2 separate regions of the Homo sapiens genome follow, and region 2 is linked to region 1. Evidence: fine-mapped expression QTL. A gene starts in region 1. The other region holds a variant in brackets. All regions are shown on one strand. Distances are between the middles of the regions. Region 1 holds the start of RASAL1 (RAS protein activator like 1). Region 2 overlaps DTX1 (deltex E3 ubiquitin ligase 1).

Region 1 (2,905 bases):
TTTCCCAGATGGGATTAACTGAGACCCCATCTCTGGTGGGTCAGAGACTCACCAGGCAGCCACCAGCTGGGGAAGGAATTCCAGGGCTCTGAGTTCCTCATCAGCCTGTCTGGGTTGCTGGGTGGGGAGTCAAGAAGGGAGACTGGGAAGCAGACCATTGGGCTGCTGACGGATCCAGGAAGGGCACTCCTGGTCTCACCGGTCTGGGCGTTGGCTCCCGCACTCAGTCTGCAGGGGCACTCCCATTGGTGCCTGGCCTTTCTAAGAGGTCTTGGGCAGGTCAACAATGAATTCACAGGGAGAAATAAGTGTGCGAACGGATCTGTTCTGGGACAGGCCCTGCCTGTCATATTATCTCATTTAAAATCAGAAAAATGTACAAACCTGGAGCCACTGGAGCAGAGAGAAAGGAAAGAAAATCTCTACCGGAGTGGAAGGGCATCCTGGAAGCCTTCCCAGGAGAGGTGACGCGTGGCCCACGCCTCAAAGGACAACAATCAGAATATCAAACACTTTCTGGACGTGTATTAGGTACTTGTCACTGTCCTGAGACTTTTATCTTCATTAACTCTTTTAATTCTTTCAAAATCCTGTGACTGAAATGCAATGTCATCCTCACTCAACAGATGAGAAAACCAAACCAAAGCACAGAGAGGTTGAATGGCTTACCCAAGTCCAGACAGCTACCAAATGGCAGAGCCAGGATTCGAACCCCTGGAAGGCAAATCAGTTACTGACTGTGAGACCTCTGCCAAGTTATTTAATCCCTCTGAACCTCAGTTTCTTTATCCATAAACTGCGGATAATGGGGTAACAGTGGAGTAGTGTGTAGTGCACATCTGGAGACAAAAATGAGCTAATCCCAGTAAAGCGCTTAGAACAGTGCCTGGCACCCATGAAGTGTTCAAACAACTGTAGATGACTTTTTATCATCGCTGTAGTGGTTATCTTCAAGCCTTCCCCTCCCCCATCTGGCCGCGGCTTCCTCCCCCGCAGTGCCAGCCCGTGACGTTAGAGCAGAGTCTGGGTTCTGTGTTTAACTGGAAACTAGAACGAGATGGAAGGGGATGTTCAAGGCCCCTCCCTTGACTCTGAACGGACCCCCAGGGAACATGCGACCCTCTCTCTGGCGACGCCTCCCACCCACCACTAATACTTGCTCCTGGACCGGGGGGCGCGGAGGTTGGAGAGAGGAGGCAGGTGTCTGCATGGTAGGCAAGGAGGGGTGGGGGCGGAGAGGTGTGAATATGTTGGATGAGGGACAGGCGGGGGCACAGACCATGTCTTTTAAGCCCAATGCCAACTCACCAGGAGCCAGCGGCCACGCCCATCAGGACGGGGGCCCCTCCCCACCTGGCGGTGCACCCTTGTCTCCGCCGCCCGTGCGCTCTGGCGCGCATGACTGGGGTGCCGGTAGAGGGCGCGCGAGGGGGCCCGGGGTCAGGTGGGGGACCCCATTGGAGGCGGGATTGTGGGGAGGTCCCTGGGCCGCCCCTCCCGCCCCCTGCCCGCCCAGCCTGCTTGTCTGGAGCTCCAGACGCCTCGGCAAGAGCCCGCTGCGCCCCCTGCGCGCTCCTCCTGCTCGGAGCACGGCTCCTACCTGTAGAGTCCGGACGGGCGCTCCCTCCCCGGGCACCTACACCTTCTCCTCTTTCGGAAATCTCCCATCCAGCTACCCGGGTCTCGGACAGGCGGCACTGGGACCACGAGGCAGGGAGCCAGGCTTGAAGCAGGTGACATGTAGACGTCCCCTGGTCCAGCCTCGGAACCTGAGCGCCCTTCTGCCTGGAAAGTTTGTGGCTAGGCGCCATGGCCAAGAGCAGCTCCCTGAATGTTCGCGTGGTGGAGGGCCGCGCGCTGCCTGCCAAGGACGTGTGAGTACTCCTCGGGCGCTTCTGGGTGAGGGGCGCGCAAGGCCTGGGGTGGGGCCGACGTCGCCCTTTCCGCGTGCCAGGGCGGGTTGGCAGGAGGGCGAGGGGTTCTTGTCCAAGACTGGTCTTGGGGCAGTTCCGCTTTAAAGGGGCGAGAGGCCGCATGCCCATGGCTGTCCCGGTGGGAGGGGGGCGCCTAGAGTTAGCAGATGCCCCGCCTCACCCCCGGGCAGGGGAGGGGGTGTCTTTGTTCCCGGGATGTACTAAAGGGGGTCGTCCAGAGCTGAAGAGGGGATTAGAGGGCCATATTCTGTCAGATCTGGGAGGGGAGAAAGCGGGGGGTCTCTTCCTTAGTCCAGGCAGATGTTGGAGGTGGCTCCTCCAGGCGTGGGTGGGGGCCTAGCAAGGGAACCCTGGGGAGGACCCTTGGAGAGGGCCTGGGATCAGATGAGCCCTAACATCCTGTGTGGATCTGGTGCTTAGGTTTGCAGAGTGTCACCAGGTGGCCCTCCAGGGTCCTTTTGACCCCAAGCCCTGAGCTCCCCAGTCTTGTGGCTCCCAGCCTCGTGTGGGCCTTCCCCGGGTGCTGAGCTGCTTGAAGAGCCAATTCCTTGCTGCGACCCCCTCCCCAGCCAGGTGCAATGGGACTGGGGGACCCTACGGCTCCCTTCACTACTAGTCCCAAGCTATGCTTCCCCCAGGGCTGAGTCAGCAGCTGCTGAATCAGCAGAATATGGGGGGCGGGTTCCCCCTCCTGCTTGGCATAGTGCCCAGAAGGGGCTCTGAGGGCCTTAGCACCTGCGACAGGTGTGGGATCCTCTGGAGGACATTTGTTGTGTGACCTTGAACCTGCTTCTCTCTGGGCCTTGGTTTCCCATTTGGGCAATGAGAGCTCTGGACCGGAGTCCCCATCTGGTTGCCTGGGGTCTCCCATCCAGCTGGGAGGGTGGAGGACCTGTTAGGAGTTCCCCTGTGGCCCAGGTGAGCAGGAGCATGGATTGGGAGCCTTCACCTGTGTCAAGATTCAGTCTTAG
Region 2 (2,905 bases), 46 kb after region 1:
GCGCTGCAGCCTGCAGAACGGCCTGCCGTCCACACGCGGACACACGATTCCGCACCGCCTGTGGGGAAGTACTCGTGCGTACTGATTCACATCATGCATGGGGGCGCAGGAGGACACGCTGACTCACTGCACACGAGGACACATGCGCACATGCTCTGACCCACACCTCCTGACACTGACACACAGACACTCAGCCTGGGAGGCCCACACCTGCACACATGCAGAGGCACAATCACACATGCACACAGGTGCAGCGCACACACACCCACTTGGTGGCTGCTCGGCTATACAGGATAGTATCACGTGGCCAGGACTCCCATCCCAGACCCCTCTGAGGGCTGTGGAGAGGTCTGGAGCAGACATCTGGATTGAGCCCCTTGAGGAGGCGCCGGTGTGATGGAAGTCAATGAACACAGCTCCCGAGGGAGGCAGGATGGGATGGCGGGTACCCTGGGTCCCCCAGGACCTGGTCAGTGGAGGTGGGAAGAAAGCACTGTGCCTCAGTTTCCCCACCTGTAATGGGGATAGAGTCCTGTGAAAGTTAAATGTGCTAAAACATGTAAAGCTCATCATTTGGCGCAGGGATGAGAGTGGAGGTGTCTTGATTTTCTTGTCGGGCACCCTGCGGGGGGGCCCCAGGAAGAGGGGCACTGAGTATTCATTTGACCCTTCTCAGGGTCTGTCATAATCCTCCAGGGCCTTCCTCAGGGGGGCAGCTGTCACCACTCTAACTTCCTCCCTCTCTATACTTTTATAGGAATGCATAGAGGCATTTCCCTCAAGCTTTTCCTCTTTCCTGCCCATTCTTCAAGCACCTCTAGTGCAGACAACCTGGTTAAGTCTAGGTCTGCCTCACCCCTCTTTCTTCCTTTCTGCCTCACAAGAAGAAAGTATCTCTTTTTTTCTCCAGGACTACCTATAAATTGGGTGGAAAGAAAAATATTGAGCATGCATACCACCACTGGTTGGTCTCCTGCCTGTGGCAGACATCACTAATCCATCACAGCACTCTCTCAAGCTTAGCAGAGTCCTCAGTACAGCTCTCCAAGCAGCCTCTATCAATCAGTATAGCCAGTTTGCTACCCCAGGTCTATATAATGCCCAGTCTGGCCCAGTGGGTAACCCTGCTCTTGCTGAGTGTTTGGTCTAGGAGTTAGACAGAGGGTACTCCAGGAAGGGAAGGATTTAGATCTCAGCTGCCCTAAAATTTCTGGAGCCCCTTAAATACCACATAGCCCTAGATTACAAAAGTCAGTCTTGCTCCTGGGAAGAGCACTGTGAGTGGGGTGTCACTGTGGGACTGTTATTTATTTACCCATCAGTGAGCCTGGGGGACAGTCCCGAGGTAGTCTCCAGCTTCTCTCTAACTGCAGGCCTCCTGCGAGAACCCAGGGTAGCAGAGTTCCCACGAACCCTGAGCGTGGGAGCCACCCGGCCCCCTTTTGATGTGGGACACGCTGTTTCCTCCGAGTCAGTGAGAACATCCT[CCTG/G]CCTGGACAAGCGACCGCTGCCTGCGGGCCTCCCGGAAGGGGAGCCAGCCTTCACCCCTAGCTCTGCCTTCTTGGGGGCCCAGGCTGGCACAGGACCTGAGGAGTCCCTCAGGCCCTCCCCGAAATCTACTCTGACCAGAAGGCAGGCATGGGCCCCACTGCCATGCAAGCCTCTCTGCCTTTCCCAGTCCCAAATCAGATCCCATCTGTCCTCTGCTCTCACTCCTCCTGCAGCTCCCACTTTGCTCACAGTTAACACCTGGCCTCCTGATCTGGCCCCCATCTACCCTCTGAACCTCATTTCCTATGTGTTCACCCCTCTCCCACTCCACTCCAGCCACCCTGGTCTCTCTGCTCTTTCTCAAGCATGCCAGGCACACTCCCACCCCAGGGCCTTTGCACTTGCTGACCCTTTCCCAAGGTGCTCTTCCCAGATATCCTCATGGCACACTCCCTCACTTAGCACAGGTCTCTGCTCAAATGTCAGCTTATCTGAGACACCTTCCCGACCACTTTATTTAGTTATTTATTTATAGACAAGATCTTGCTCTGTTGTCCTGGCTAGAGTGCAGTGGCTTAACCATTGCTTACTGCAGTCTTGAACTCCTGGGCTCAAGCGATCTTCCCACCTCAGCCTCTTGAGTAGCTGGGACTACTGGCACACACCACCACACCCAGCTTAAACAACAACAACAACAACAACAACAAAACTTTTGAGGAGACAGGGCCTCGCTGTGTTGCCCAGGCTGGTCTGGACCTGACCTCCTGGGCTCAAGTAGTCCTCCCTCCTCGACCTCCCAAAGTGCTGGGTTTACAGGCATAAGCCACTGTGCCTGGCCGCAACCACTTTATTTTTAAAAAGCCCATCTTTGTCCTTACCTTACTGAATTCTTTTTTCATAGCACTAATCACGACCTGACATTATAGTCTTTTTTTAAAATTATACTTTAAGTTCTAGGGTACATGTGCACAACGTGCAGGTTTGTTAAATATGTATACATGTGCCATGCTGGTGTGCTGCGCCCATTAACTCATCATTTACATTAGATATATCTCCTAATGTTATCCCTCTTTAAGCATGACCAGGCCCTGTATGATCTGGTCCACGCCGCCTCTTCTGCCAGACAAAGTTAGAGCAGGAATGTCAAATATATGAGTGCATACCACTACTGTCCTCCTAGCACCCACAGCAGGCATTACTAATCAATTTCGGCATGCCTTACCGCTAAGCCAAGATGCAACTTCAGAATCCTCCTCAACACAGTGCTCCAGGAAGTCACTGCCCTGGAGCAGAGATGGCACATGAGATGAACTCTATTTGTCATTTATTTTGCAGATGATGGGACTGAAGCCCAGAGAAGGGAAATGACTTCACTAAGGTCACCCAGCTGGTTGGTGGTGCAGCTGGCACTGGG

The links.
Region 2: its variant is fine-mapped to the expression of RASAL1 in whole blood (TOPMed, PIP above 0.99).

What each region holds. Positions count from the first base shown.
Region 1 is chr12:113,134,367-113,137,271 of GRCh38, reverse strand. It overlaps RASAL1 (RAS protein activator like 1), which reads left to right and starts at 1,511. Exons shown (of 21, transcript NM_001301202.2): 1 at 1,511-1,874. The coding sequence starts at 1,810. RefSeq lists a silencer at 1,385-1,524.
Region 2 is chr12:113,088,133-113,091,037 of GRCh38, reverse strand. The region is part of intron 3 of DTX1 (deltex E3 ubiquitin ligase 1); the gene reads right to left. Among named protein-coding and RNA genes, the nearest start is that of DTX1, 33 kb to the right of the region's middle. The variant CCTG/G (reference allele first, on the strand shown) is at 1,488.